Linked DNA regions of Homo sapiens. The protein of the gene in region 2 purifies or fractionates together with the protein of the main gene of each other region. This does not show direct contact. Each region holds a gene or a part of one and is shown on either strand. Other genes may lie near its edges. The genes, in order: FREM2, CTSG, YTHDF1 and TCF25.

Region 1 (7,600 bases), on a different chromosome or scaffold from region 2:
CTTCTTACTCAGTAGTTGCCTTTCTCTATTTTAAGTGATTTTTATTGTACTGCTCTTTACTTTTAATGCTAGCTTTTAAAAATTTACATTCTTATTTTTTCTTCTTTCTTGAGGTGCAATACTGACAATTCTTATCTGAGAGGATGATCCAAACATTGGGGAAAATAAAGATCCATAGTAGAAATTCACTTAAACTGTGACAATCATGTAATCAGTGTAGGCAACATTTGGCATAGTAAAAGAACATTGTGCATTTGATAATTATAATTTTAAAAACTTCAACGCTGTTAACATTTTAACACTTTATTTCAGTTATTTAGTTCATTTTAAGGTATTCGGTCATCCAAAAGAACTACATACATGTGATATTTGACTTATTATTCTTAATTAAACCATCAAAGTAATTTTTTTTACATCTTAAATGTCAATGTTGAACCTCCATTGAGAGAAAAATCAAGGCACATATTGTCATCATTTTATTTAGTATGATGCTTTTGATCTTTTGCAGGAAGTTCTTTTTTCTTTCATCTGAAAGCCTTAACATTTTACACAGAAGGGATACTGCACAAATGCTGTGTGGACTTACCAGCTTTCTGATGAATGAGGATGTTAATTACATATTGAAAGTGGTAATGGTTTTGAAATGAAAAAGAGAGCATTATTGGAAGAATGAAAAATACATCTCAGAAAGAAACCTATAGTTCAACAAATTAAAAGAAAGAAAGAAAAAAAGCAAAAGTAGGTGTCAGGGCTGGACCAGCTTTGTTGTTGTTATTGTTCTTTAGCAAACAAAATATTGAAAAAACACAAAGCAAACAAATACCAGGGGAAAGAAATTAAATGTGCTTGAAAGATAGGGAAGAAAGATACTGAGTGTCTAAGGAGCTATTACTGCTGTTCAAAAGTTTGCAAATTTAATATTCTGATTTTTCTCCTAATAAAATAAAATTAAGAAAGACATTAGTGTATTTTGTCAACACTAGTTCAAGAGAGAGTCAGTTTTCTTTCCTTATGGAGAAGTTTCTGATGTACTCTTCCTGATGGAAACTATAGAAAAATATCATGTCCTTCTATTTTAACATGTTTTATCAAAATCAAAATAGTTACCAAAATCTCAAAGCATTTTGTTTCTTAGTATCAAAATCCATGGAAAAGGGGAGAAATCAACATTAAGGGATAATTTGAACCTATATATAATGTTTCCTTAACAATTAAATGTTATTACCATGCAATAGTGCAATCAATTCTAGGAAAACACCTCCAGGAAATATATTAACCTCTGAACTAATGTTAAAGAAGCTCCCATGAGAGTATGTTTTCACAAATGAGCTTTCTGTTGACCTTTTTGTAAAACTTCATATAACGTATTTCAGTTAAACCTATGATGCCTTTAGTGTTATCTCTTTCCTAGAAATGAGATGTTTGGTTATTTTATGTCTGTGTGTGTGTATGTGTGGCTGTGATAGCACTGGTATTTATAGTTTCCTGCTAAATTACGTATTTCTGAACCTTGGTAAACTGAACAGATTGAACGTTTGGGTCCCATTTATTGGCCATACGCTTAGTGAAGACACTTGTTTTCATCCTTTTATTACTGCTGTCATGTCTAGAAACATGAGTTTCAAAGAATGGCAATGTGCTTGTTTTCTGATTAATACAATTATGAAAGTTTCAAATTTGTAAAACATTTACATTTTTAAACATATTATTTTCTTTACTTATTAAAGGACCAAATTGGCTTCCAAGTCAATACTAAATAAGTATTTTCAAAAAGCAGAAATAAAATATCCACCTTTTAAAAGCAAATGTCATTGTATTTAGCTCTATTATTGGTACTTTAAAAAAATTTTAACCTGGGAATATTTTAACTCTCAGCATTGAGATGTATAAGGAAAAGCTCTCTGTGATATTTACACAGGTCCATTTACATTTTTAATGTTGACTTTGGAGTTGGCACACTGGAAAAGAATTAGAGGTAAGATGACTTGATAAAGAAGCTTTTTTGCTGCTTACAGAACTAAATCCCTTCATATTGAGCCTAGAGTTGGTCCTTCTTATCACAAATGCTATGCAGTGGCTTGGCAGCAGGATGCTAGCTGACCTTTATGCAAATTGTTCAAACACTGTGGATTCTTCTGAGAGGGTGGAATTCAGAAGGTGCTAATGCTGCTAACGAGCTGGAAGAAGAGTTTATGTGCTAAGTGTTATTCTTGGAATAAAGTGGGCCTATCTTTTACTAAGAGGAAAAGAATGTGCAGTCCCACCCACAGCTCTACAAGGCACTCCCCCAGTGAGGTTTTGCGAAGGTCAATTTTACTAAGTTACTGGTTTGAATCATTTTGTATAAATCTGTCATCAGAATGATCCATACCCAGTAGGGCTCTTTTAGACAAACAAGAGTGGAGTCTGCTGTTGTTATTCTAGAAAGATTTTTAAATTATGGTTCACAGATAATGACTGTTGTGTTTTTGGTTCAGGAGAGAATCTAATGCATATCCTGACACTTTAGTCCAAATAAAGAGCTGCATTCAGTTATAACCTTCCCAAGGACAGCAAGTGGAGCTTGGTTTCTATGCAATCCCTCAGAATAGCCAATCCTAGGTGAGCACCAGTAAATGTTAACTAAGGGCAAAAATGGGAATAAATAAGATCATCATTAAAATACATATTTCAGTGCTTCATGATTCACATGCTTAGAAGAGCCACTTGAATAATATTTATTTTTGGTTTTATTTTTACTATATAATATCAACAAGACCTTGATTGGAGTCAGAAGCCACTGAGTATCTAAGGAGCTATTATTGCTATATCCTGTTCTCTATGGGAAGTTATTTTATGTATTTGTTCTGATAGTACCAGAATAGTTCTCTAAAAACAAAATGCTAAACATAAGGGTCTATTTTATTTAACAAAAAATTTACCATATTCTTCCCACTAACAAGAGTTTCAAAAAATAATTAATGTATATTAAATTACATACTTAGTAAATAGATATTAAGAAAAATAATGCAAAATCCCAAGTACTTTATATTTTAAAAAGCTATATCTGCCTATTTCCCACAGATTCTCTTTTTTCAAGGGAATAAAGGGAAGGAAAAAGGGAGAGAGGAGAGTAAGAGAATAGAGGACAGAGAAGGATAAATATTTGGTAGGATAGGATAGAAATGTTCTGCATTTTATAAGCTCTCCAATTTATATAAAGTAGCTTCATTAGAATATGCATTGTAGAGTGAAATTTGGTATAAAACCAGCTTGACCCAAAGCCTGAAAACAGACTTCGTACAGTAATGCTTCACCGATTGCTATATTCATTGACAGACTCCAAATTGCATGATAGGCTCGGAAGCTGTTAACTACTAAAATATCAGCAAGTTGATTGAGTATACTTGCTCTAACAGTCTACATCAATTGAACCCAATGGTAAGTAGGGAAAAGTCTACGCACTATTTGAAGTTCCCTAATTCATGTTCATTCCCATACAAATTATGAGGTAGCCAAAGAAGTAGCTAAGCATCTGCCAGAAGGTAAAGCAAAGGAAAGGGGAATGATTAAGAAATTACCACTATTTATCTTGCTAAATAAACTCCTGGGCTACACAGTACTTTCTGTTCATATAAGCCGTTAGTGGGACTTTTGAGCTGTAGATGATATTTTTGTAAATTCTCCAATGAAAGGATACTACAGTCTATTTTTAAAAAACTGAACATGAAGTGCAGAGCTGCCTAAGAGAAGAAAGGCAACTATTGGACATATGACCTCTCTCTCAGTATCAGTGTTGCTTCCTTATCTTGATCAAGAAATGGTTGATACTTACAGACACCAAATTAAGATGTGCACATCTGTTCTGAGAAGTTTGCCTTTTAAAATTCTGCAGTGACCAAGATGTCCAATGTGGCCAGCTTATGGCTAGAAGTCAAAGGGGATTCTAGCCAGCATCTGAAGGATAATCTGTAGGCATTATTCTTTTTCTCCTGACCTTATTTTTCTTTGAAACATGTTTACTAGCTTTTGGAAAGCTGAAGTTTTCCCCTTCTAAGCGAAATTTCTGCTATTTGGTAACAAACACATTGATGCAGAAAGGCAATGGGAGGCTTGCCAAGGAAGCTCACTCAAGTTCCTTGGCTTTGGGAGGTGAATGGTAAGCACTGTTACAAATTATATTTTTAAATATTGAGAGGGACCACATTGTACCAGTTCACTGAACTGGGGATGCCAGAGCGATGTCTTCTTGAACCAAATAAAAATATGGTCAATGATTCTGGCCACCTCCAAGACCATTTCTGGAATGATAGTTGCAGAGAGTCCCATCGTTTGGACCAGATGCTGGATAGAAAGCTAATAAAATGTCCTGTAGCCAATTTAAGTTCTAAATGTTATTGTGTGATTACGCTACTCCGAGGGATAACCTCATCTGTCAAAATGTTCCTTTATTCTATAAAGTATGTATAAGAGGCACTCTGATTATACACATTATATTAATAAATACCACTTTCTCCCTTCACCATCTGTAACAATGTTTCTTATTATCATTTATGGGTTCAATACTGCAAACATCTAGGCTCAGTTCTTAGAGAACATTGTCTTGTAGTGACTCTAACTCTATGGCATTTATTCATCACCAAAATCTCACCAACCCTCTAATTTCCCACAAATGTTGAGCACCAATAAGGTATATTACCATGCAAGAGCTCTACCATTACTCACTATATGCCAAAACAGAGCAGCATCTCTTAAAAATCTCTTTCAGAATTAACATATTCTTTGGTTTAATTTAAAATTAAATATGCAAACAAAACAAGGAGAGTCTGATGAGAATGAGAAGCAATTCAAATTCAAGTGAGTGAACTTCCTTCCCTCTATCTTTCCTTCCACTGTCTCCCAAGTAGTAGATCAGTTGATTTGTGGGTTGAGCCACCCTGGTCATAATTCTATGCTGTCTTCACCTATTTGAAAACTTGTCATAATAAACAGTGTGTTCACCAGTTTTCCAGACTAGCAACAAAAACCTTTCTAGTAATAATCTGTTATACAATTAATAAACAATGTGATAATTGCACCTTCAACATTCACACTAACATAGCAACAGTAGATTCCTCTTACACTTGTAAGAGAGTCTGTTAGCACCTTTTAATAGATTTATCTCCACTGCATAGAGAATATGTCTAAAATGAGGAGTACATTCCTCACATCATGGCTCTGTGTACATATGAGTACGTTGTTGCTGCCTTTGGGGCAAGAGGAAAGATGCCTTAATTTGTCCTTTGATGCAAAAAAGAGTATGGAGAATTCAAATCAAACTCCATTAGTACAGTCATATTCTCTAAGCAGCTTCATCACAGCCATCCTCCATTCTCTATGGTTTACCAGAAGTATTTAAGGTTCCATTGTGATCTTTTCCGAGGCACTTACGGAAAAGGTTGAATTCTACCTGCAGTCATCAAACTTCTGAGCTGTCATTGTGATGGCTCTGTGGGGGCACCATGGGCTCACTGCTGCTGGAGCCTTTCGGGGCATCCTTCCCCCTGAAACTTTCCTTGCCCCTGCACATCAGCACTGCAATGACAGTGAGGCAGATGGTGAGTAACCCTACCGTGGTGCCTCCCACCACAGTGACCAGGCTGACTGCAGAGCTGGGGCTGTTGAGCTCCCAGGGGAGGATGCCATCTGGAGGTGCTCTCCCATGGGGGATCTGCCTCTTGGTGCGGTCCAGGGCAATGTGCTGGATGTTTGTTCCTCGACTGTTTTCAGCACCAATCTCCCATGCCAGTGAGGGTGTGCTCCTGATCTCTCTCTTCTTCCGGCTCTTGGTGGTGGATTGGGGCTTTCCTTGACTCACCAGAGAATGGTACTCCACACTTCTTTTGCCAATACCTCGATTGGCATTGTCTTTCGATCTCACTGTATAGATCGTATGTATATACCATTCTCGGCCTAGAGCGACCTAGAAAGCACAACTCTATTTATTAGGAAATACTAGATACCATGTCAATCTAATCCACGACTCTTTGCAAGAGAAATTAATGGCAGAGATATTAATAAATGATTTTAGTCTGCAGAATTAACTTACTTAATATTTTTGAATGAGTACTAGGTGCAAGGCTCTGTGCAAAGCACTCTGTGATATATCCTGTGCAACTCTTAAGGGAGTGAATATGTGATACTTGTTGTCATAGAATGAGAGAGTTCTAAAGAACTATTAATAGATTATACAGTCTAGCTTATTCACTAAAAAAATGAGTAAATTAGAATATGCAGCAGTTAAGTGAGTTGCCCAATGTTACTCAACCAGTTAGTGGCAGAGGCAGGACTACAGCTCAAATCTTCTGAACCCCAGGACTCTTTTCACTGTGTCTTGCTGCTTATTGCATATAAGACCATAGGGGGAAAAAATCAATTTTCAAGCTTTTCTGGGGCTTTGGAAAAGGATGAATTTTCTGATGAGTCTTTGAAGCATGCAAGATTTAGGAAGGTCAGATGCTTTGAGATTTAATGGCAAAAATAAAAATAAAACATATCATACTTCAACTTCTTGTTTGAAAAGATTGAGAATAACAAACATGCTTTCTTAAGATCCTTCCTTAGGTTGAATGAAAATAACACATTTCTCCAGGCCATCCTGTCGGGTTAATTTTCAGTAAATATCCTAAAAGCCGCACTTGCTTCGGCAGAGATTTGCAGTGTAAGCACCTCTTGAAATTTGTGGCATTTGCTCAGTGTTGTGGCAGCTGCCTGTGTTTCCCTCCACCTTTGATCCCTGAGTCAGGAATTTGTATCTTGGTTTCTGAAATCTTTGAGAGTGGAGCTGTGCACAATTGCTTTCCTGAGTTCAGCAGTTCACACAAGATCACTCTAATTAAGATATTGGTGAAAAGTCAGCAGGAAGGAAGTTTTGAATAAGAAAAGCAGATTACTCAACTGTCAGACACAGATTTATATTCTGGGCTAAATAAGACTCTTCATTACACATAGTCTTAAAATAATATTAATACATTAATAAAAGTGATAAGAGCTATGAAAGCCAGATATATTGCTAACAAAAATAATAAACGCTGGGTTTATGGAGTGCTCACCATATGCCCAGCATAGGGTTATGTAGTTTATTTGCCATATCTTATTCAATGTTCCCATTAACTGTATGCAATATTACTATTACTGCTATTTACATATGAGACATCTGAGGCATATAAATGTTCCATAACTTGCATGTGGGTACACAACTACTACAAATGAGCTTGTTTTTGGCCTACCTGAAAGAGTGGTGTTGAGTCGACTTTAAATCCATCAGATCCAGGCTGATTCACTAAGAGAATGGCTTCAGGGTCATCCACTGCTAGTTTGGCATTAAATAGGACATTTCCAAAACTGGTCGCTTGTGTCTCTGGCTGAGCTTTGTCCTTTAAGCAGTAAGGAAAGTGGTGATTGCTGTAGATAATGCCACGGCTTTTGCCAGGACAGCATGTTTCTCTATTTGTTTTGTGCAAGTACAAATTACTATAAAATGTCACCATTTGGTTTACTAAAAATGATCATTTTGTTGGTTTTTCTATTTTTTTTAAGAGACGGGGACCTTCTCTGTCACCCAGGCTAGAGTGCAGTAGCA
Region 2 (8,511 bases):
GGCTATCTTGAACATGCTGCTATGACCTTCTTGGACATGTATCTGGTAGAAATTTGCACCCGATGTTTCTCTAGGGTATATACCTAGGATTGGGAAAAGAGCCAACATGGTAGCTGCAACTGTTATTGCACTTTTTTCTTTTTTCTTTCCTTGAGACAGGGTCTTGTCTTGTCACCCAGGCTGGAATGCAATGGCACAATCATGGCTCACTGCAGCCTCAACTCCCACTTCAGCCTTCCAAGTAGCTGGGACTACAGGCACATGCCATCACACACAGTCTCGAACTCTTGGGCTCAAGTGATCCCCTCACCTTGGCCTCCCAAAGTGCTGGGATTACAGGCATGAGCCACCATACGTGGCCTTCATTGTGCTTCAAATGGGTGCTTCTCTAATATCTAGTCAGAGTAACACTTTTTCATGTTTATTGACCACTTCGATTTCCTGTTTTGAGATAAAACTGTTCAAGTCTTTTGGCTATTGTTTTATTAAGTTAATTGTCTTCTTCATTGCAAGTTTTTGTTTTGTTTTGTTTTGAGAGTCTCACTTTGTTGCCCAGTGAGGCAATCTCCACTTACAGCAACCTCAGCCTCCCCAGTTCCCCAAGCGATTCTCCTGCCTCAGCCTTCCGAGTAGCTGAAGTTACAAGTATGTGCCACCATCCTGGCTAATTTTTTTGTGTATGTTCCTAGTAGAGACAGGTTTTCACCATGTTGGTCAGGCTGGTCTCCAACTCCTGACCTCAAGTGATCGACCCGCCTCGGTCTCCCAAAGTGCTGGGACATGGGTGAGCCACTGCACCTGGCCAGATTTCTGAGTTCTTTATGTAATTTGAATATAAGCCCTTTGTTGTTTATGTGTATTTCAAGCATCTTTGCCTACTCCATGAATGGTCTTTTGTTTCTCTCAATTTAGATGTGTCAAATTCATCAGTCCTTTTCTTCATTATTAGTACTTTATATACAGTACTAAAATCTTTACCTATCATGAAGATATTCTTCCATTATATATTCAAATCATTATTCCTACTTGGATCCATAATCTACCTAGAATAGGTTTTTTGATATTTTGGGAGAAGAAGGTCAAGTTTTATTTTTCCACATAGAAAATATTTGTCTCTATAGGACACCATAAAGGCAATTTATTATCCCAGTACCATTTATTGGGGATAAAAAAAGAAAATAGTCTTTTCCCTATTATGATGAAAGATGCAACATCCATCATAAATCAATCCATCCATGTGTATGTCAGCGTCCACATGCGTGTGGAGTCCTTATTTCTGGTCCATTAGTCCATGTTTCTATGCCTCATCAATACCACGCTATCTTCATTCCCATGGCTTTGTTTGCAAAAGCAAGTCTTCCATCTTATTCTCATTCTCTAATGGTGACCTGGCTATCATTAGCCTTTTGTTTTCCAAATATACTTACAATCAGTTAAGTTCTATAAAATACCGCTCGGTGCAATGAATCTATATAGATCAATTTTGGGAGAGCTGACATTTTTACAATATTTAGTCTTCTTCCAATCTATGAACATGGAATCTCTTCATGTTTAGGTCTTCTTGAATGTCTCTTCATTCAGTTTTATAATTTTCACCAAAGAGGTCTTTCACATATTCTTTTAGATTTACATTTAGTTATTTGATCATTTCCATGCCATTTAAGTATTACTTTCTAAAAATTTCTTTCTAACAGTGTTGCAGTACATGTAGAAATATGATTAATTTTTAAATTGATTTTTTCTAGCAAATCTGTAAAACTCTTATTAATTATGGTAATTTACCTGTAGATGATTTTGGATTGTCTACGTATACTATCACTTCCTCAAATCATTACAATTTTGTTTTCTCTTTTCCTGTCTTTATACCTTTCATTTCCATTTCCTACCTAACTGCACTGGCTAAAACTGCTAATGTACTGTTTGTTGAACAGAACTGATAATAATTTGTATTCAGGCATTATTGTAATGTTTTGCTCTCAAAAAAAGGTTTTAACACTTTTCCATTAGGTATAATGATTGCTGTGGGAATTTTGTGATAACTTCTATCAGATTAAAGACACTCTTTTTATTCCTAGTCTGCTAAGAGTATTTTTTAAGTAAATAAGGGTAAATTTTAGGCCTTCATTGTTTCAATTAAATAATCACATGATGTTTCTTCTTTAGTCAGTTCATATGATGTGTTACAGCAATTTTGCTTTTCAAATGAAAAGTCAACTATGTGTTCCTAGAATAAACCCAAATTACTTATGATATATTAATATCTATTTGCTTATTGATTGATTTGGTTTGCATCAATATTCAAAAGTTTATTGACCTATAATGTTTCATTTCTATATTGTCTCTATTGGGTTTGGCATGGAGGTTATGCTAGTCCCATAAAGGGAAGGGTAGCATCCGTTCTTCAGAAGAAACTATATAGCATACTTTAAATATTTTCTACAGATTTCTCCTTAATGTGGTCATCAAAAACAAAAGTTGAAATTTTGTGGATTCAGCACATTCCCTTGGAACAATAGCAGCTTCCTAACTAGACTCTCATTATTCCTTCAACTTGATCTGATAGTCACTTCAATGCTGGTAGTTCTTCGAGGTTTGTAAGCTTTTTAGATATCTTAAATAGCTTTGATTACTTTTAATGAGAAGATTGCATGAAATTCTAGGTCACTATTAATGAAATTTCCTAATCAATCTTTATTACATGAGTGAATGCATATATTTTACTCCTTTTTTTTCATATGTGCAGGTTTTTCTTTATCCCTTTCTTCTATTTTTAAGTTAAACTAACATTTTTAAAACAAAACAAAATGTTGAAAATTTTTAATAAATTAAATTATGCCAAATGCTAAGGCACTAATAAAGGTGCTATACTATTCTCTCTTTGCTCCCTTCTTCTTCACGTTACTTTTCAGATGCATAAAGACGTTTTATAGAGCCTGTACAAGAGAAGAGGTTAAGCTCTGTGCAGCTCTAAAAATAAGTGAAAAAATTATATATTTATGTATAAGGAAAGGAACCCTAATTTTCATGAGATTTTCAAGAGGGCCTATTATACTCCATAAAGACTGGGAATTGTATCTCACACCAATCAGAATGGCTATTACTAAACAGCCAAAAAATAACAGATGCTGGCAAAGTTGCAGACAAAAGAGAACACTTATACACTGTTGGTGGGAGCAGTTCAACCATTGTGGAAAGCAGTATGGTGATTCTTCAAAGAGCTAAAAGCAGAACTACCATTCGATCCAGCAATCCCATCACTGGATATTTACCCAGAGGAATATAAATCATTCTACCATAAAGACACATGCACGCAAATGTTCACGGCAGCACTATTCACAAAAGCAAAGACACGGAATCAATCTAACTGCCCGTCAATAGACCAGATAAGGAAAATGTGGTACATATACATTGTGGTACATATACATATGCAGTCATAAAAAAGAATGGACTCATGACCTTTGCAGGGACATGGGTGGAGCAGGAGGCTATTAGCAAACTAATGCAGGAAACCAAATAATACATGTTAGTTAGCAAACTAATGCAGGAAACCAAATAATACATGTTCTCACTTATAAGTGGGAGCTAAATGATAAGAACTGTGAACACAAAGAAGAAAACAACAGACAGTGGGGTAAGAGGAGGGAGAGGAGCAGAAAAGATAACTATTGAGTGCTGGGCTTAATATCTGGGTGATAAATATGTACAACAAATCCCCGTAACATGTGTTTACCTATGTAACAAACCTTCACATGTACCCCCAAACCTAAAATAAAAGTTAAAAATAAATACCTAAGTAAAAGATTTTCAAAATAAAAGACAGAAAAAAAGAGATTGGGAATTGTATTAGTCTTCAATTCTGCTATTTCTGCAAAAATTATACTGGATTATAACGGTTTTCTGTGCATACACAGAATCTTCTAAATATTTTAAGTGTTTTTAATAATCCATTGTGTTACTCTGCAGTAATTTGCTGTTCTTTTCTCCCATTGTTGAGTATGCGGCTCTAATTCTTTTATAGGTAGCACAGCAATGAATGTACCTCCTTCTCAGAAGCTTTTGCTCCTGGGATTAGGTTGATGGGCCTCTAATGTCACCAGTGAAATGGGATATTAGATATTTTCCAGCTAGGATACGACAGCTCCCAATAAAACCAAATTACTAAGCCTTTTCTGCAAGCAAGGAGCCGTCTGGAACATAAGGACTTTAACCTTGGGTAGGAGACAGGCAAGCAGAAGTCTTCAATTGTGTCACAATTTTCACTGAGGACTCAAGTGACCTAAGAAAGTAATTGTGATTGTCAGAGCCTTGTTCTTCCTTTTCTTTCTCCAGCCGCACGCTTCACCTACTCAGGAGAGTGCCTACGCAATCTGACTTGACAGCTTCTAGAAAGAAATTAGAGCAACAGGGGTCTCAGCAGGGTGGTCTTGGGCCAAACACTGAAAGCAGGCAGGCTTACCCTTTCCTCTTCTGCCCCCTTCAACTTTTTCCTGATGTTCTTACCCACATCCCTCACCACACCACACCCTTTCATTCATCCTTGTCCCAGACTTATTAAGTATATACAGATAAGCAATCCAGGGAACTTGCATTCATTAGGAGAAACCCAGAAATTCAAAAGCAATAATGATCTAATCCCAGAGGAGTAGAAAACAGGAAGTGGGCAGCTGCCAGCTTTCTTGCTTTGCTGGAGTATTCTGGAATTTGATGGGTTGAGGGTTCTGGACACAATGCCCCAAGCCCCTTCCTTGTTGTGCTGGGTTCCTATTTCTGCTCTCGGCACTGACTTAGCAGCTGCTCAAGAGCTCACTATGTTGGCTTGGATTACACGGTCTCACCCACATCTCCGGCAGTTTGTGGGCAAACTTCCTGAGCAGCCTTGGGTGATGAAACCTTTCATGGTAGCAGGAGAATGGGACTGTGAATTCTCAATCCCCTGTCCCCACCCCTTCCTTCCTCTCTCAGGGCCTTAAAGTCTAGGAGGAGGAAGCACAGCAGCAACTGACTGGGCAGCCTTTCAGGAAAGATGCAGCCACTCCTGCTTCTGCTGGCCTTTCTCCTACCCACTGGGGCTGAGGCAGGTGAGTGACCATCCCCACCCTCAGAGGCCTGACCTCATCCCATAGATTCTTGAGCCAAATTGCCTTGGTATATCCTAATTCTGTACTGTTGAGCAAGTTATTTGAATTTGTGTTTCCTCATCTATAAAATGAGAATAATATTAATACCGATCTTGCAGAGTTGCCATGAGAGTTAAATAAGTTAGAGTATTTAAATGTCTTGGAATTGCCCGCACACTATAAGTGCTATAAAAACATGCTTTGTGTAAATAATTTGGCAGCATGTGTCAGACCCTACCTAGGAGGTAAGAATACAGCAATAACAGTACCATCAGCTCATGTCTAGATTTTTAAACACCAGTCCCACGTGGTCTTGAATTGGACTCAGAGGGCTCTGGGAAGCTCCATGAGGATAAAAGTATAAGGGAACTTCAGGAACAATCCTGTACTTACAGCAAAGCATTCTCCTCAATACCTGAGGCTGAAGCTGGCCTTGCCTGGAACAAGGGTTGTTCTCCCTCTTTTGGAGAGGAGGAGGGAGGTGAGGCCTAGGATGGGGAAAAGGGCTCCTTTCAAGACAGCAGTGTTTCCTGTAGAACCCTGGAGCCCCCTCCCAATCTGCTGCCCCATAGACTCCAAGCCTCAGCACCATCTCCTCCCTCTCCTGCACCCTCTCTCCTGCCGTCCCCATCTTCCAGCCTTTCTGGAGCCACCAATCTGGTACCCACATTGCAGGTTCAGCAAGCATAGAGCTAAGTGCCAAATGCTTCCTTCCAGGGGAGATCATCGGAGGCCGGGAGAGCAGGCCCCACTCCCGCCCCTACATGGCGTATCTTCAGATCCAGAGTCCAGCAGGTCAGAGCAGATGTGGAGGGTTCCTGGTGCGAGAAGACTTTGTGCTGACAGCAGCTCATTGCTGGGGAAGGTGAGGAGCTAAGGAACTTCCTGGCCAGCCAGGAACACAGCCCTGCGGAGCTCTTCGGTGGAAGAGCCATCTGAAAGAAGAGTTGTAGCAATGAAAGGGTGAAAGAAAGACCAAGTGAGTCTTTGCGGGAGGGAACAGGCCAGTGTAAATGAGGAGGAAAGGAGGATAAGATCAAAAAGAGCAAGAGGAAGAGATGGAAGACACATATTGGGGCTCAAAATATAAACTCAGGCTATTTATCAACTTAATCTGGGGAAGCAAACCTGAAGGCAAGTACCACCCTGTCATCCCTAGCTCAGAGCTGCTGAGAAAGAGGATACAGCTGAGCCCCAGGGCCCTCCCATCCCCTCGATTCTGGTTAGCTGCAGTCTTGCCCTCCCCGTGCTGTCTGCCTACCCTGCAGAGCTGGTGGACCATAGCTCCTGCAGCCCAGACCTACCTCTTGCTTTTGCAGCAATATAAATGTCACCCTGGGCGCCCACAATATCCAGAGACGGGAAAACACCCAGCAACACATCACTGCGCGCAGAGCCATCCGCCACCCTCAATATAATCAGCGGACCATCCAGAATGACATCATGTTATTGCAGGTACCACCTACCTGGCCCTCTGGCTCCTTCCTAGTGTGTCCGGGGACAATGGAGGAGGAAGTGAGGGCAAGGCTCCGGGGTGGCGGGGAGGGCATGGGATGTGTACTGCACCAGCGACCCCCGAGCCTTGGCTGGAGGCCCCAGCTGAGCGGGAACGCCTACATTCTTCCTCCAGCTGAGCAGAAGAGTCAGACGGAATCGAAACGTGAACCCAGTGGCTCTGCCTAGAGCCCAGGAGGGACTGAGACCCGGGACGCTGTGCACTGTGGCCGGCTGGGGCAGGGTCAGCATGAGGAGGGGAACAGATACACTCCGAGAGGTGCAGCTGAGAGTGCAGAGGGATAGGCAGTGCCTCCGCATCTTCGGTTCCTACGACCCCCGAAGGCAGATTTGTGTGGGGGACCGGCGGGAACGGAAGGCTGCCTTCAAGGTAAGGCATGGGCATTGGCCAACACACCCCGGGAGAGAGGGGCCCGTGCAGAGCCAGGCAGTGCGAACAGATTCCATCCCCACAGCCTCAGCCTGGCAGCCAGACCAGGGTGGGCTGGGGATTGTTTTCCCCATCAACCTGGTCTCTGGGGGAATAGGAGGAAGACCCACAACACATACATAGGCAACATTCTCCTGGAGAAGGGAGAGGTACCTTGACTCAGATTGGGCTGGAGACAGTAATTAAGGCAGAGCTGAAGTCCAGCGACCGAAAAGATCCAGAGGCTTGGCTCCTGTACCCCACCGATCTTCCATCTCACACACACCCAGCAATTGAAGGGGCCCACCCACCCCTGCCTTCCCTGAGAGCCCGGAGCTCAGGGAAGCAGGAGCAGGGAGGCCTGTCTCAGTCTCCCTTCTCCTCTCTACCTACAGGGGGATTCCGGAGGCCCCCTGCTGTGTAACAATGTGGCCCACGGCATCGTCTCCTATGGAAAGTCGTCAGGGGTTCCTCCAGAAGTCTTCACCAGGGTCTCAAGTTTCCTGCCCTGGATAAGGACAACAATGAGAAGCTTCAAACTGCTGGATCAGATGGAGACCCCCCTGTGACTGACTCTTCTTCTCGGGGACACAGGCCAGCTCCACAGTGTTGCCAGAGCCTTAATAAACGTCCACAGAGTATAAATAACCAATTCCTCATTTGTTCATTAAACGTCATTCAGTACTTAGTTTGTTTGGATTGCTACAACAAAATAGCACAAATTGGGTGGCTTATAAATAACAAATTTATTTCTCACAGGTCTAGAGGCTAAGAAGTCTAAGATCAAGTCACTAGCAGATTCAGTGTCTAATTAGGGCCCATTTTCTGGTTCACAGACAACCATCCTCTCCCTGTGTCCACATATGGCAAAAGGGGCAAGGGAATTCTCTGATGTCTCTTTTACAAGGGACCTAGTCTCATTCAAAGAGCTCAGCTTTTACGACCTAATCACATCCCAAAGGCCCCACCTAATGCCATCACATTGGGGATTAGGTCTGGGAAACATAGGGAAACACTGTCTCTACACAAAAATTTTAAAATTAGCCAGGCATGGTGGCATGTGTCTATAGTCCCAGCTACTTGGGAGGCTAAAGTGGAAGGATTAGTTGAACCCACGAGGTTGAGGCTTCAGTGAACCATGCACTCCAGCCTGAGCGACAGAGCAAGACACCATTCCAAGAAAGAAAAAAAAAAAGACTGGCAGGCCAAAAAGACAGAACTGAAATTCCAAAAAAAAAGACCTACTTTAGTGTATGAAAAAGGTGGCATCTCAAATCACTGGGAAACAATGGATTTTTAATAAATAGCATTAGAACAACTAGATAGATATTTGGAGGGGATGGAAGCTATAATTGGATCCATTCCTCACACCATACTTCAAAATAAACCTCAAATGGATCACAGATCTAAATGCAAAAACATTAAACCATACAAGCACTAGAATAAAGAAAAATTAAAGAGATTTTGCTT
Region 3 (7,600 bases), on a different chromosome or scaffold from region 2:
GCTCCTTTGCTGCAGCCTTTCCCTCGGGTGCTGCCCTGGCCAACAGGCCCAGACTGGGGGGGTGAGCGAATCAGGGGGGCGGTCTGTGCACAGGACTTGCTCCTCGAGTCACTGGCCGCAGGTGCCTTCAAGGACGGCAGGCAAGGGGACAGTCCCCCCCACAGGGAAGCCAGCCCTCCTCCTCCCATTAGCTGGACACGTGCTCCTCAGCAGCGCTGCAATCACAACACATCTTCCTTCCACGCAAAAAGAGCAGATGGGAAAAAAAGACCTCGATGGCTGTGTGGTATTCTAATCCACTTGGCCCCAACACCAACCAGAGGAGTCAGGCCACAGAAACAGATGCCCAGGGACACTTCTGACTTACACCTAAAGCCTTAACTAAGACAGGACATCACTTACCACATGAAAAAATCCACATTACATGAGGCATGTAACATTCCTGAAAATCCGTTTTAAGTATTAAATGGACACACCTAGCACACACGCTGCACAGACAGAGAGCCCATAAATGACCCATCCAGCTTCCCTCTACCCAAGGTGCAGGGCCTGCAGTTCTAGCCAGTACTCTGCAAATCCTTCAGCTCCAGATCACCACCATTCACATCCTGAGCCACAGAAGACGGTGACGCTAATCAGCTCTGCTGGCAGCCCTAAACCCTCCTGATACTTTCTGTGCTCACCGGGTTCCACGGCCACACAGGCAGGCTGGATACAGTGACCTGGGGTTCTGTGGGCCGGATTTCCATTTTTACCTCAATCTCACTGACAGCCCATTTCCTATTACATCTGCCATCTTTCCTCCAAAACTCTGAAGGTAAAGAAGCAGGTTAATTTGTAAAGCTATGTGAAGTCAGTCATTCTGTACATAAGAAAACCTGGAGATGCTGTCCTCTGCCTTCTTTATGAGCCACATGTCAGGCTGCTGCCCCACACTCCTTCCCTGGTGAGGGAAGCTGTCCCATTCACAGTCCTGGTCACAGTGCGTGGGAGACAACTGGAAACGCACAGTTCGGGCTGCCTGGAAAACACATGCAGCCTCCTTTCAGGGCCTTTGATCTCCCTTTGTCTCCCGCACAGCCAGGCACAGGTTCAGCGCTCACTCGCTGCCAAGTGCTGGAGGCGAGCTGTGCTGCTCCCTCAACATTCCTTAGTGCCACGGCTCCATGGGCACTGAGTTATGAGTGTGAAAGTTTACTTCTCAGGGATACAGCTGCATTAACCCCGGGCACGGTGACTCATGCCTGTAATCCCAGCACTTTGGGAGGCTGAGGTGGACGGATCACAAGGTCAGGAGATCAAGACCATCCTGGCTAACACTGTAAAACCCCCCTCTCTACTAAAAACACAAAAAATTAGCCGGGCGTGGTGGTGGGTGCCTGTAGTCCCAGCTACTCAGGAGGCTGAGGCAGGAGAATGGCGTGAACCCGGGAGGCGGAGCTTGCAGTGAGCCGAGATCGAGCCACTGCACTCCAGCCTGGGTGACAGAGCAAGACTCTGTCCCCCCCACCCCCCTCCAAAAAAAAGAACAAATTCAAAGCTTGTTCTTAACACATTACTACCTCTGAGCAAGCATATTTTGGTCCTCGTAAATGAGTGGCATAAACAGATCTTTTAAGGACAATACAAGCAAAACCATGATCCTGTTACTCTGCAGCCGCCTCCACAGAAGACTGCTGAACACTTCCACATGCTAGGCGCCTCACTGCAGCCCCTGCGGAGAACTGACGACCTCATCGAAGAAAGGCTAACACATTTTTAGCCGGGCACAGTGGCTCTGGCCTGTAATCCCAGCACTTTGGGAGGCCGAGGCAGGTGAATCACAAGGTCAGGAGTTCGAGACTAGTCTGATCAATATGGTTAAACCCCGTCTCTACTAAACCGGGTATGGTGGCAGGCACCTGTAGTCCCAGCTACTCCGGAGCCTGAGGCAGGAGAATCGCTTGAACCTGGGAGGTGAAGGCTGCCATGAGCCAAGATCACGCCACTGCACTCCAGCCTGGGTGACAGAGTGAGACTCCGTCTCAAAAAAAAAAAAACAAAAACAAACAAAAAAGAACTAAGAGCAGTTTTACATATTTACTCAAATTTAACCACATTAAAAAAAAGAAACTTCCATCCGAATGACCAGAACCATTTAAGTTGAAGTTCAATGGTTAAGTTTACTTCCTATATCCATTTTTCTGAGATGGAGTTGGAATGACCAAAAGGAGAGACTAGAGGGAGAAGCAGAAAGGATCCCTTCAGAAGCCCAAGAGGAACAGAGAGAAGCATTTGCTTAATAAAAACAAACAAACAAAACAAAATAATTAATTATGTAAAATGGAAAAGTATTAAGGGTACTGCTGAAAAGTGAGGGAGTGATATGGCTCCTGGGAAGCAGCTCTGACCCAGGACTGGGAACAGGCCTACCAGGATGACCTGTTCTTCAGGAGAAGCCTTAGGGAGCACAGAGAAAATGTTAGAGGAAAATAACCGAAAAACCCTAATTTACTTACTTGGCTGCTCACTTTTCAGATCTGTTTTCAGGACTGGTCCCTCTGAGGCTGCAATTTCAGCCCCTCAGCTGGTGGCATCAATATGCAGAGACAGCAGTTTCTGACAGAATTTCTGCATTTGTTTCAGCAACTTGCCAGTAAGAAGCACGTTAAGATCCCACTATGTCCTTCCAGCTGCGTTTCTGGGAAGCCGTTGTGATGGCAAATGCCTACTTAGCAGGCGCTGCCACTGGGTATTTTAAGGAAGCCCATATTTTTAGATGCAGCCACAAGAAACTGACACTCCCCTGCTGGCCCTCAGGTCACCCCGGGCCCACCAGAGCTGCCCAGGCACAGCAGGAAGCCCTGTGCCAAGCATCTCCAGGCTGTTCTCAAAGAAGTCCTAGATGCTCTGATGAGGCATTGTGTTCAGTGAAAAAAAACCACCCAAAACCTGATGAGCAATTTCGTCACTGTGTGATCAGTGTCCTCACACAAACAGAGACGTGTGAGCATGGAGGCAGTATCCTTACCACACACTGAGGCCGTAACCTGTACAGTGTGTAACTGTACTGAATAATGGAAGTAACTGTACATCAATGATAAGTATCTGTGTGTCTAAACATTATCTAAACACAGAAAAGGTACAGTAAAAATACGGTATAAGAAATCAAGAACGGGACACCTGTACAGAGCACTTACGGTGAATGGAGCAGGTAGGCCTGAGTTGCACTGGGTGAGTCAGGGAGAGAATGTGAAGGCCTGGGCCCTCACTGGACACCACTGTCACCTTTAGAAACACCGTCCACTTAACACTACACTCAATTTTTAAATTTTCCTTTCTTCAATAATAAACCCTAGCCTACTATGGCTTTTTTACTTTACAAACTACTTTTTTAAAAGCTTTAAGGTTTTTGACTCTTTTGTAAACACAAATATATCATATAGCTGTACAAAAATTTTTTTTGTTATATCCTTATTCCATAAGCTTTTTTCTATTAAATTTTTTTTAACTTTTTGAACTTTTTTGTTATAAATGAAGACACGGCCAGGCACAGTGGCTCATGCCTATAATCCCAGCCCTCTGGGAGGCCGAGGCAGGAGGACTGCTTCAGCCCAGGATTTCGAGAACAGCCCAGGCAACACAGTGAGACCCCATCTCTACAAAAAATCAAAAATAAGGCAGGAAGATCACTTGGGCCCAGGAGGTCAAGGCTGCAATGAGTCATGACTGCACTTCCGCCCAGGTGAGGGAGAGACCCTGCCTCAAAACAAAACAAAACAAAAAAACCAAAAACCCAAAAAGACACAAAAAACACATATTAGCCTAGGCCTACACAGGGTCTGGATCTTCCACCTCCACATCTTGCCCCACTGGAAGGTATTCAGGGGCAACAACACACATGGAGCTGTCATCTCCTGTCACACCAATTGCCTTCTTCTGGATTCCTCCTGAAGAACCTGCCTGAGGCTGCTTTACAGTTGACTTTGTTTCTAGTAAGTAGGCAGAATATGCTCTTAAAAGTATAGCAAATACACAAAGTAGTAACAGTCGTTTATCATCAATTATTACGTACTGTATGGTACTGTACGTAACTGTAGGTGTATACTCTGGTATGACTGGGGCAGTAGGTTTGGTCACACCTACTGCAGCACCACAGACACGAGTAATACACTGCCCTCAACATGGTAGCTCCAACGTCACCAGGTGCCAGGAATTTTTCAGCACCATCATAGTCTTATGGGACCACTATCATATTGTGGTCTGTTGCTGACCAAACTGCATCCGGCAGCACAGGTACAGGCATGCCCAGATGGCCTTGGTAATTTCTGTCAGTGGGATCACAGCAAACACACTCAGTCTGTTGGTCAGGGAGTGTGCAGGAAGCCTGGGGGGCCAGCGGCATCTATTCCCAACTCAGGCATCATGCCAAGACAGTGTCTTCTAAACTCTGAGTAGGAACTGTTCTGGGTCATTTCACAGTCTTTCCTTTCAGAAAACAACAGAGAACTGGGAAACCAGAAGTCCCCGAGCAGGAAAAGCCTCAAAAGAGAGAATCGGCGGGGCACTGTGGCTCATGCTTGTAATCCCAGCACTGTGGGAGGCTGAGGCAGGGGGATCACCAGAGGTCGGGAGTTCGAGACCAGCCTGACCAACATGGAGAAACCCCGTCCCTACTAAAAATACCAAAAAAAATTAGCCAGGCGTGGTGGCGCGTGCCTGTAATCCCAGCTACTCGGGAGGCTGAGGCAGGAGAATCACTTGAGCCAGGGAGGTGGAGGCTGCAGTGAGCTGAGATCGCGCCACTGCACTCCATCCTGGGCAACAAGAGCGAAACTCCATCTCAAAAAACAAAAAAAGAGAGAAAATCACAACAATCAAGCCCAACCCAGAGCCCTTCACTCCCAGTTCCTCTGCTCCCCCAACTCCCATTCAAGTCACAGACTAGAAGACAGATACTGAGCGGCTACAGTCGCAAGCGCCTCAGGGGCAACTAGGACTGAAACTCTAGCACCAGAAGCACAGCAAGGCGGGTGAGGCCTCTCTGAGGGAAGGACCCCCACCACACGGCAACAACCCCTCACAGCCCATTACAAGTTAAACCAACCTAACAGGCAGGCATTCTCCTAAGACTTTCTAAACCATTCTAAGTATGACAGTTTCACACAAAACACGGTAGCCTCCAACTGGCTACTACAAACCATATCTAGATTTTTCTCTTTTAAGTACCCAGGGTTAGGTTGGGCACTAGTGGCTCATGCCTATAATCCTAGCACTTTGGGAGGCTGATGCGTGTGGATTGCTTGAGCCCATGAGTTCAAGACCAGCCTGGGCAACACAGCAATATTTCATGTCTACTAAAAATTTAAAAATTAGCTGGGCGTGGTGGCACATGCCTGTAGTCCTAGCTACTTGGGAGGTTGAGGTGGGAGAATCACCTGAGCCTGGGAAGTCGAGGCTGCAGTGAGCCATGATCACATCATGCACTCCAGCCTGGGCAATGGAGTGAGACCCTGTCTCCAACAAAAAAGGACCCAGAGCTATTGATATGCCCACTATCTTAACTGTGGCCATGGCTCCAAAGGTATGTCTGTGTAAATCAAAAGTTATAAAACCATACTGTATACTCTACATATGGAGCTAAGACACCCACTGACATAAAAATAATCGATTTGTAAAGAAATCCTCCCAAACAACACAAAAGCTCCGACTTTATAAAAATATTTTTGGCTGGGCACAGTGGCTCATACCTGTAATCCTAGCACTTTGGGAGGCCAAAGCAGGAAGATCACTTGAGCCCAGAAGTTCAAGACTAGCCTGAGCAACACAAAGAGACCCTGTGTCTACAACCAACCAATCAATCAATCACCAGGTGTAGTGGTGCATGCCTGTAGTCCCAGCTATTCAGGAGGCTGAGGCAGGAGGATTGCTTAAGCCCAGGAATTTGAGGCTACAGTGAGCTATAATCATGCCCCTGAACTCTAGCTTGGGTAACAGCAGGACCCTGTCTCCAAAATACACACACACACACACACACACACACACACACACACACACACACACACTTTTAAGTGTACTGATGCAACCTCCCTCCCCCTTTATTGGCTAAAATTCAGTACATAATACCATTAAAGTACTAAAATAATAAGAACACACTAGAAAACAAGAAATTCAAAAAATTAGTTAACTTCCTGCCATTACCTCTATCCAAAGGCCCATCACTAAAGTCAAGTCAGTTCTGCCCAGAGGAAGGGCAGATTCTCAGAAGGCAACCAAGAGACAAGAAACAGAAGCAGGGTCGGAGCGCGGGGCAGCGCTGCCGAGGCTCCACCTGTACAAGGTTTCTTGGTCTCTAAGCTGCTTGATTCGCCAAGTGCAGTAGGAGGGAGGGGGATGAAGGAACATTCTAAGAAGTTCTAAGACACCTCAGAAAAGGGCAGACTAGTTTTATTCCTTCACAGAGAAGAGGTGAAGCCTGGTTTTACTTTAAAGTAAACATGCCCAGTAGCTGAGGGCTACTTGGAGTGGCGGAGGAAGGAATGTGAATCACAGCACACGAAATGGAGCACTCAGAGCATCTGCTTTGTGCTGCCCCATGAGGCCTGCTCACCAAAGTGAGGAGCTCACAGAGGTGCAGCCCCTCATCCAAGCCAACGGCCTGGAGGTAGGAAAGTGAGGCAGGGGAAGTCTGATTCCCGAGTTGGACTCTTAGACATAAACAGATACCGCTTCTCTTGGGAGTTTTGCTGCAACAGCAGCACAGAGGAGAGAGAGCAGCTCCCAGTAGATTTTAACCAGGGCAACTGTATCCCCCAAAAAACATCCACCAAGACAGTTTTGCTTGCTACAACTGGGGATGGGGAGAAGGAGTTGCTAATGGCATCTAGTGGGTGGGAAGCCAGGGAGGCTGCTAAACATCCAACAATGCACAGGACAGCCCCCAAAACAGAATGTTCCCGTGCAAAATGTCCACAGTGCCAAGGCAGAGAAAGCCTGAATTACCTAAGAAAACAGGGCAGCTATGACTCACTGGGCCCTGCTGTATCAGGTACTGTCTCAGCGCTTTATGTGCACCATCTGATGTCATCCTCCCAACAATTCTACAAACAGTTACTACTCTCTCTCTTCTACAGAAAAGGAAATTGAGGCAAGAGAAGGCAAGCCATGGACACAGGCCAGTCAGTGGTGGAGTTAAAATTGAAACCAGGCTGGGCGCGGTGCCTCACGCCTATAATCCCAGCACTCTGGGAGGCCGAGGCGGGTGGATCACCTGAGGTCAGGAGTTTGAGACCAGCCTGGCCAACATGGTGAAACCCCGTCTCTACTAAAAATACAAAAATTAGCTAGACGTGGTAGTGGGTGCCTGCAATTCCAGCTACTCCCGAGGCTGAGGCAGGAGGAATGCTTGAACCCGGGAGGCAGAGGCTGCAGCAGGCTGAGATCACGCCATTGCGCTCCAGCCTGGGTGGCAAGAGTGAGACGCTGTCTCAAAAAAAGGACTGAAACCCAGGCGGCCTCTGGCTCCACAGTCGCTCCACAGCCCAGCTCTTAGCTGCCTCCCCAGACCACAATTCCAATCATCCAGAGCTAAGAATAACCAGGAAGCTTCAGAAACACACAC
Region 4 (7,600 bases), on a different chromosome or scaffold from region 2:
TTTGGAAGGCTTTGCAGGTTTGACCTTAAATCAGTGAGGAGCTCAGAGTCAGCCTGACCCTCGCTCCCCTGTGCTGAGCGACCGCATGTGGAGGTCTCTCTTCTTTCAGATACTTCTGCCCCTAAAGCCATCCCTCTGGCATCAGGCCTCGCTGGTCAGACCTAGACTGGCTTCCGCCAGGCCTTCCCGCAGCCTGTCCTGTGGGCCCTTTGTGGAGCAGACCAGCTTCTGTCCGCTGTCCTGCCTCTCCTGTGTGCAGTGCCCTGTTTCTCTGGCCGCCCTGGGTTGTCTGCAGTGTGGGATCCGCTCCTACCCTCTCAGCCCTCCTGGCAAGCCAAGGTCCGCTGACCCGTTCTGCACAGATTGTCTGCACTGTGTGCTGGGTCTGAATTTCCTCCACTGGTTTTCTTTATGTTAGTTTTGTCTCTTCCAATGAAATTCTTAGTTCTTTGAAGTAGATTATAAAATATTAATATTTCCCGACGCGAAAGAGACAGTGGGCTGTTGATGGAAGTAGCAGCCCACCAGCATCCGAAAGTCACAGGGCTCCATGTATCCAGCCTGAGTGCTGTTAGCCACTGTTGAGATTGGAGGATAAATTAAGATCGTAATTGTAACAAGAGATTTTAACTCTCTTCCTGTAAATGATAAATAATAAACAAAAAAACAAGATAAAGATTTCAGCGGGGCGTGGTGGCTCACGCTTGTAATCTCAGCACTTTGGGAGACCGAGGCAGGTGGATCACAAGATCAGGAGATCGAGACCACGGTGAAACCCCGTCTCTACTAAAAATACAAAAAATCAGCTGGGTGTGGTGGCGGGTGCCTGTAGTCTCAGCTACTTGGAGAGGCTGAGGCAGGAGAATGGCATGAACCCAGGAGGCGGAGCTTGCAATGAGCCGAGCCGAGATAGCGCCACTGCACTCCAGCCTGGGTGACAGAGCGAGACTCCGTCTCAAAAAAAAAAAAAAGATTTCAAAGAAGTTTGATTTTCAGTATGCAAATTCGTGTATAACTCTGTAAAGGACAAGGAGAGCGCACACCTCCTCTCCAGACATGGATCTCTGTGTGCTGGGCACGTAGAAAATGCCAGCAGAACCCAGAGAGCAGAATGGGGGTGGAGCGGGTGCTGACCGGGGCGCTAAGCAGTGTGTGGGGTGGAGCGGGTGCTGACTGGGGCGCTGAGCAGTGTGTGGGGTGGAGCGGGTGTTGACTGGGGCGCTGAGCAGTGTGTGGGGTGGAGCGGGTGTTGACTGGGGCGCTGAGCAGTGTGTGGGGTGGAATGGGTGGTACTGGCCAGGACGCTGAGCAGAGGGCGGGGTGGAGTGGGTGCTGGCCGGGGCGCTGAGCAGAGAGCATTCTCCTTTGTGTCGTTGTAATTCATGTGGAACTATTTTGGATCTAGGAGCTTCTACCTGGCCCTCTACAAGCAGATGAGCTTCCTGGAGAAGCGAGGCTGCCCGCGCACGGCGCTGGAGTACTGCAAGCTCATCCTGAGGTGAGTGTCTGCTCAGGGCCAAGCCCGTCCACGCTCCCTGTCCTGGCTGCAGGCCCACTCTCAGCCTGACGATGCCCCTGTTCCCCTTTGCTCTGCTCTCTGTGCTGCCTCCGGAAGTCTCGAGCCGGATGAGGACCCCCTCTGCATGCTGCTGCTCATCGACCACCTGGCCTTGCGGGCCCGGAACTACGAGTACCTGATCCGCCTCTTCCAGGAGTGGGAGGTGGGTGCGAGCCTGGTGAGGCCCCGTGGAGGGACGGACACCTGCTTCTCCTTCTGTTTTCTTGGTTCAGTATCTGTGCGCTCAGGGGACGTTTGGGGATGAAACGATAATCGTCTGAGGGCAGAACCACGTCCTCCTGCCTTGTTTGTCTCCCTTGCCGCCTCTACGGAGTGGAATGTGGTTTTCCTAGGGACAGTACAGCAGCCTTATGTCAGAATCCTCATACGTGTGTACACATGCTCAAACGTGTGTACACATGCACACGTGTGCCTGCAAGGACTGTGATGCTGGTAATGATGAAAAACCGACAACTCCCGAGCTCCTCATGGGCAGTTCAGGAAGATGCAGCCGGGAGGTAGAAGGAGGGTTGGTTGCGTGGGGCTGACACAGGGACCCCCAGCACGTCTGTCCTGTTCCATGGGAAGAGTGTGAGTACAGCAGGAGAGACTTGAGCTCTGTCCCCAGTAACTCTAACACAGACACGTGTTGGAATGATAATTTCGGTGTATTGGGTTAGATATAACGTATTAATCTCACCTGTTTTGTCTTTAATGCAGCTCCCAGAAAATTTAAATTGGGCCGGGCATGGTGGCTCACGCCTGTAATCCCAGCACTTTGGGAGGCCGAGGCGGGCGGATCACCTGAGGTCAGGAGTTTGATACCAGCCTCAACATGGAGAAACCCTGTCTCTACTAAAAATACAAAATTAGCTGGGCGTGGTGGTGCATGCCTGTAATCCCAGCTACTCGGGAGGCTGAGGCAGGAGAATCGCTTGAACCTGGGAGGTGGAGGTTGCGGTGAGCCGAGATCGCGCCATTGCACTCCAGTCTGGGCAACCAGAGTGAAACTCCGTCTCAAAAAAAAAAAAAGAAAATTTAAATTGACACCTGGGCTCCCATTATGTTCCTATGGGGCAGCACTTATCTGGAAGGACACGGGCTTTGTAACGCTAACCTCCAGCAGGGCCTGGGGCTGGGGAGAAGGCGACAGCTCTTGACTTTCTCTGCTTCTGTGTTGAATTTTTTTCATAGCACATGTTCATGGATAATGAAAGTGGGTAAATTATTTTGAATTTTTAAGCATTTGGCATAGTTGGCCAGGAAGTCTCACCCCCAGGAATGTGGTTTATAGAAATTCCTGGAGCTCACAAAAATGTAGGTGCAGGGAAACCTCAGGGAGTCCCCCAAAATGGGGCTGCAGAAGAATGTTGATGATGGTGTTTAAGGTCACAAAACTGTGAGTCTGTGATCCCATTTTGATAGAAAAAAATGCAGTGAGTCACATGTCTACAATATGTGACATAGGCTGAGAAAGGCAAGAGAAACTGGCACGGTGGTAGACTGCTCGGAAACTCGCGTGGCGGGCTGCTCTCGGAAACTCGCGCGGCAGTGGGCTGCTCTCACAGACTCGCGCGGGGGTGGGCTGCTCTCGTCTGTAAATTTTCCACATTGAGAGCACCAACTGCTCAGCTTCAGAGAGGAGCCTGGGCGGCAGGTGGGACCCTCACTCCCCACGGTGTCCTCGCTCCGGCTCAGTCTACTTCTCAGGCCCTCCCACGTCCTCTGTATCTTCTGCATGCGGAAAGCCCCCCAGGTGGACGTTTTAAGTTATCTTTATGCTGAGTTAGGAAGAGGCCCTTGCGTTGCCTGCAGAATATACCTGCTCGGGGTAGGGCTCACTGGTGATGTCAGAGCGTCTGCAAACTCACATATTTTGTCTTTATGACTTAAGGCTCCACGCTCTGTTTCTTCGTCCCTCGTAGGCTCATCGGAACCTGTCCCAGCTCCCTAATTTTGCCTTCTCTGTTCCACTGGCGTATTTCCTGCTGAGCCAGCAGACAGACCTCCCTGAGTGTGAGCAGAGCTCTGCCAGGCAGAAGGCCTCTCTCCTGATACAGCAGGCGCTCACCATGTTCCCTGGAGGTGAGTGAGCGCTGTGTCTCGCCTGGGGTAGGGGTGTGTCCTGTCAGCCGTGGGGGCTGCTCTTCCTGGTGGTGGAGGCCAGGTCCCAGTCCTTCCCCACACTTGTAGAAACATGCATTCTCTGGTAGGGCCTGCAAACCTGCCCTACCAAACCTGAAAGAGGGTCGGCTCATCTCGGAACCCGCTGCGTGCCAAGCCAGGCACGAGGAGGTGGCAGGCATCCCGACCCCCGTGGGGCCTGTGTTCTAGAGTGCAGAGACAGAACTGGCTGGGAGGTGCGGGGCATTGGATTGTACCAGTGCTGGGGAGGAGAGCAAAGCAGGGGAAGGTCTCGGCAGCGCCGAGGTGTGGCCGAGAGGGTTGTGCTCTGCACCATGCTGGGATGCAGAATGGAGGCCTGTGCCGCCCAGATGGACTCAGCCTGCACAGCCGTGACCCCTGACTGCATCTGGGTAGCTTCGATCCACGCACATGTGGCGGGCACAGTGAGGCTGCCACCTGGTCAGACCTCGGGGCTGACCCTGCCTGACAGCATGTGTGAAATCCCTCTTTAAGATGGGCCTCCTCCGAGGAGCTGTGAGGGGTGAGGGTGAAATCCCTCCTTAAGACGAGCCTCCTCTGAGGGGCTGTGAGGGGTGAGGGTGAAATCCCTCCTTAAGACGGGCCTCCGGCCGGGCGCGGTGGCTCACGCCTGTAATCCTAGCACTTTGGGAGGCCGAGGTGGGCGGATCACGAGGTCAGGAGATCGAGACCATCCTGACTAACACGGTGAAACCACGTCTCTACTAAAAATACAAAAAATTAGCCGGGCGTGTTGGCGGGCACCTGTAGTCCCAGCTACTTGGGAGGCTGAGGCAGGAGAATGGCATGAACCCAGGAGGCAGAGCTTGCAGTGAGCCGAGATCGCGCCACTGCACTCCAGCCTGGGCAACATAGTGAGACTCCGTCTCAAAAAAAAAGAAAAAAAAAAAAAAGACGGGCCTCCTCCGAGGGGCTGTGAGGGGTGAGGGTGAAATCCCTCCTTAAGACGGGCCTCCTCCGAGGGGCTGTGAGGGGTGAGGGTGAAATCCCTCCTTAAGATGGGCCTCCTCCGAGGGGCTGTGAGGGGTGAGGGTGAAATCCCTCCTTAAGACGGGCCTCCGGCCGGGCGCGGTGGCTCACGCCTGTAATCCTAGCACTTTGGGAGGCCGAGGTGGGCGGATCACGAGGTCAGGAGATCGAGACCATCCTGACTAACACGGTGAAACCACGTCTCTACTAAAAATACAAAAAATTAGCCGGGCGTGTTGGCGGGCACCTGTAGTCCCAGCTACTTGGGAGGCTGAGGCAGGAGAATGGCATGAACCCAGGAGGCAGAGCTTGCAGTGAGCCGAGATCGCGCCACTGCACTCCAGCCTGGGCAACATAGTGAGACTCCGTCTCAAAAAAAAAGAAAAAAAAAAAAAAGACGGGCCTCCTCCGAGGGGCTGTGAGGGGTGAGGGTGAAATCCCTCCTTAAGACGGGCCTCCTCCGAGGGGCTGTGAGGGGTGAGGGTGAAATCCCTCCTTAAGATGGGCCTCCTCCGAGGGGCTGTGAGGGGTGAGGGTGAAATCCCTCCTTAAGACGGGCCTCCGGCCGGGCGCGGTGGCTCACGCCTGTAATCCTAGCACTTTGGGAGGCCGAGGTGGGCGGATCACGAGGTCAGGAGATCGAGACCATCCTGACTAACACGGTGAAACCACGTCTCTACTAAAAATACAAAAAATTAGCCGGGCGTGTTGGCCGGCACCTGTAGTCCCAGCTACTTGGGAGGCTGAGGCAGGAGAATGGCATGAACCCAGGAGGCAGAGCTTGCAGTGAGCCGAGATCGCGCCACTGCACTCCAGCCTGGGCAACATAGCGAGACTCCGTCTCAAAAAAAAAGAAAAAAAAAAAAAGACGGGCCTCCTCCGAGGGGCTGTGAGGGGTGAGGGTGAAATCCCTCCTTAAGACGGGCCTCCTCCGAGGGGCGGTGAGGGGTGAGGGTTATTTGCGTGCAGCTAGTATACACACATTACGTGACCACTCATCGCCTATTAGGATGTCCTGGAAGCAGCATCCCTTTCTCGGTTCTGTGGGTTTCCAGGGCTCTGTCTGGGCCCCGAGGAGGCCCACGGCGTGGGGTTGGGCAGCTTCTAGCACAGGCAGAAACGTGCCCCCCAGAGGGGCCTGGCCAGGCCTCAGTCTGCTCGCTGACCCCAAAAGTTTCGTCCCCTGTGTCTAAGAAGCACCTTTGTCCTCCTCTGGGGCTGCATGCAGCTGGCCATATGCTCCACCAGTGCAGCCGTGTCTGGAAACGCGGCTGGGAGGCCCTGTCCTTTGTGGCAGAGCTGTGCTGCTGTGTCACAGGCTGTAGCGTCAGCACCTCCCTTGAAGGCAGGTGGGCTGCCAAGAAGCCGCTGCCACTTACCCCAGAACACTGGAGATCACTGCAGGCTCTGCCCTCGGGGCCCGTTCCCCTACATGGCGGCCTCTGCCCTCAACCTGCAGTGCTGGCTCTTCCACTGGGCACAGGTGGCCTCCGCTCCCACCAGCCTGCCATGGGGTCCAGTCTTTGTGATTAAAACATCCAACCGGCCGGGCACGGTGGCTCACGCCTGTAATCCCAGCACTTTGGGAGGCCGAGGCAGGAGGATCGCTTGAGCATAGGAGTTCGAGACCAGCCTGGTCAACACGGTGAAACCCTTTCTCTACCAAAAATATAAAAATTAGCCGGGTGTGGTGGCGGACGCCTGTAATCCCAGCACTTTCGGAGGCTGAGGCAGGTGGATCACCTGAGGTCAAGAGTTCAAGACCAGCCTGGCCAGCATGGTGAAACCCTGTCTCTACTAAACATACAAAAATTAACCGGGGCGTGGTAGTGTGCGCCTGTGATCCCAGCTACTCGGGAGGCTGAGGCAGGAGAATCGCTTGAGCCTGGGAGGTGGAGGTTGCAGTGAGCCGAGATTTCGCCAACGCACTCCAGCCTGAGCAACAGAGTGAGACCCTGTCTCAGAAAAACAAAAAAAAACCCAACCCCATGTGTGTGGAGGGTGGTGGGTGAGTCTTCCCTTGGATGCAAATGGGGGCCCTGGCAGCCTCCTTGGGGCTGGTGTGAAGGAGACCCCCAGCCTCAGACCCTGGGCACGCCAGCAGCAGCAACTCAGAATACCACCCGGAAGCAAGCCGCTGGCCCTGCAGACTCTCCACCTTAGAACAGCTGTGTCTGTGACAAGGACCTCGCTGTGTCCCTTACTGCCTTGGGGGCTAGGAGTGGCTGGGGTGTGTGCTGAGGGCCCCCACAGAGCCTCCGCTTCCCCTGCAGTCCTCCTGCCCCTGCTCGAGTCTTGCAGTGTGCGGCCCGACGCCAGCGTTTCCAGTCACCGCTTCTTTGGACCCAATGCTGAAATAAGGTAAAGAGTGGCTGGTGGTGCCCATCTGTGGGTGCCTGTGGGTTCGGAGCCTGGGAGCCATTTTCACTCATCCTGAGAGGCCCTGAGGGACCTGCTTCCAGCAGCAGGAGGGGCTGTGGTGGCGGCCTCGGGGACTGTCATTTGACATGGGACGGCTCTGGAGCCCTCATCTGTGTGGAAAAGTCCAGGTGGGACAGCTGAGCAGCCTCCAGCTTAAAAACGAGGCTCATATAAAGAGGGTGCCAGGCGTGGCGGCACATGCCTGTAATCTCAGCTTTTTGGGAGGCCGGCTTGTGCCTGGGAGGTCAAAGGTACAGTGAGCTGTGTTTGTGCTGCTGCACTCCAGCCTGGGTGATGGTGAGACCCCGTCTCAAAAAACAAAATAAACAAAGAGGGAGCAAACACAGGAGAAAGTGCACGCCTTGGGGTCATCCCCTGGCCCTCCAGGGCTCGCCCTGTGTGCACGCAGATGGACCCGCCCTGGGTGCATTTTCACATTTCTGTGACGTCAGTCCTGCTTCCTAAAGAACATAACCTGCCCAACAG

What was found.
Region 1: the proteins of CTSG (region 2) and FREM2 purify together in Homo sapiens (affinity purification with mass spectrometry; 2 studies listed by BioGRID and IntAct, with this or other methods). This does not show direct contact.
Region 3: the proteins of CTSG (region 2) and YTHDF1 purify together in Homo sapiens (affinity purification with mass spectrometry; 3 studies listed by BioGRID and IntAct, with this or other methods). This does not show direct contact.
Region 4: the proteins of CTSG (region 2) and TCF25 purify together in Homo sapiens (affinity purification with mass spectrometry; 4 studies listed by BioGRID and IntAct, with this or other methods). This does not show direct contact.

The regions. Positions count from the first base shown.
Region 1 is NC_000013.11:38,878,625-38,886,224, reverse strand, and holds part of FREM2 (FRAS1-related extracellular matrix protein 2 precursor), read right to left. Parts: intron 7,395-7,600; coding exon 7,248-7,394; intron 5,942-7,247; coding exon 5,438-5,941; 3' UTR 1-5,437. UniProt on the Homo sapiens protein: Extracellular matrix protein required for maintenance of the integrity of the skin epithelium and for maintenance of renal epithelia. Required for epidermal adhesion. Involved in the development of eyelids and the anterior segment of the eyeballs.
Region 2 is NC_000014.9:24,572,736-24,581,246, reverse strand, and holds CTSG (cathepsin G preproprotein), read left to right. Parts: upstream 1-4,996; 5' UTR 4,997-5,023; coding exon 5,024-5,078; intron 5,079-5,792; coding exon of another isoform or gene 5,793-5,834; coding exon 5,835-5,982; intron 5,983-6,436; coding exon 6,437-6,572; intron 6,573-6,747; coding exon 6,748-7,002; intron 7,003-7,436; coding exon 7,437-7,610; 3' UTR 7,611-7,729; downstream 7,730-8,511. UniProt on the Homo sapiens protein: Serine protease with trypsin- and chymotrypsin-like specificity. Also displays antibacterial activity against Gram-negative and Gram-positive bacteria independent of its protease activity.
Region 3 is NC_000020.11:63,205,965-63,213,564, forward strand, and holds part of YTHDF1 (YTH domain-containing family protein 1), read right to left. Parts: intron 1-7,600.
Region 4 is NC_000016.10:89,897,152-89,904,751, forward strand, and holds part of TCF25 (ribosome quality control complex subunit TCF25), read left to right. Parts: intron 1-1,405; coding exon 1,406-1,498; intron 1,499-1,615; coding exon 1,616-1,721; intron 1,722-3,483; coding exon 3,484-3,643; intron 3,644-6,966; coding exon 6,967-7,054; intron 7,055-7,600. UniProt on the Homo sapiens protein: Component of the ribosome quality control complex (RQC), a ribosome-associated complex that mediates ubiquitination and extraction of incompletely synthesized nascent chains for proteasomal degradation.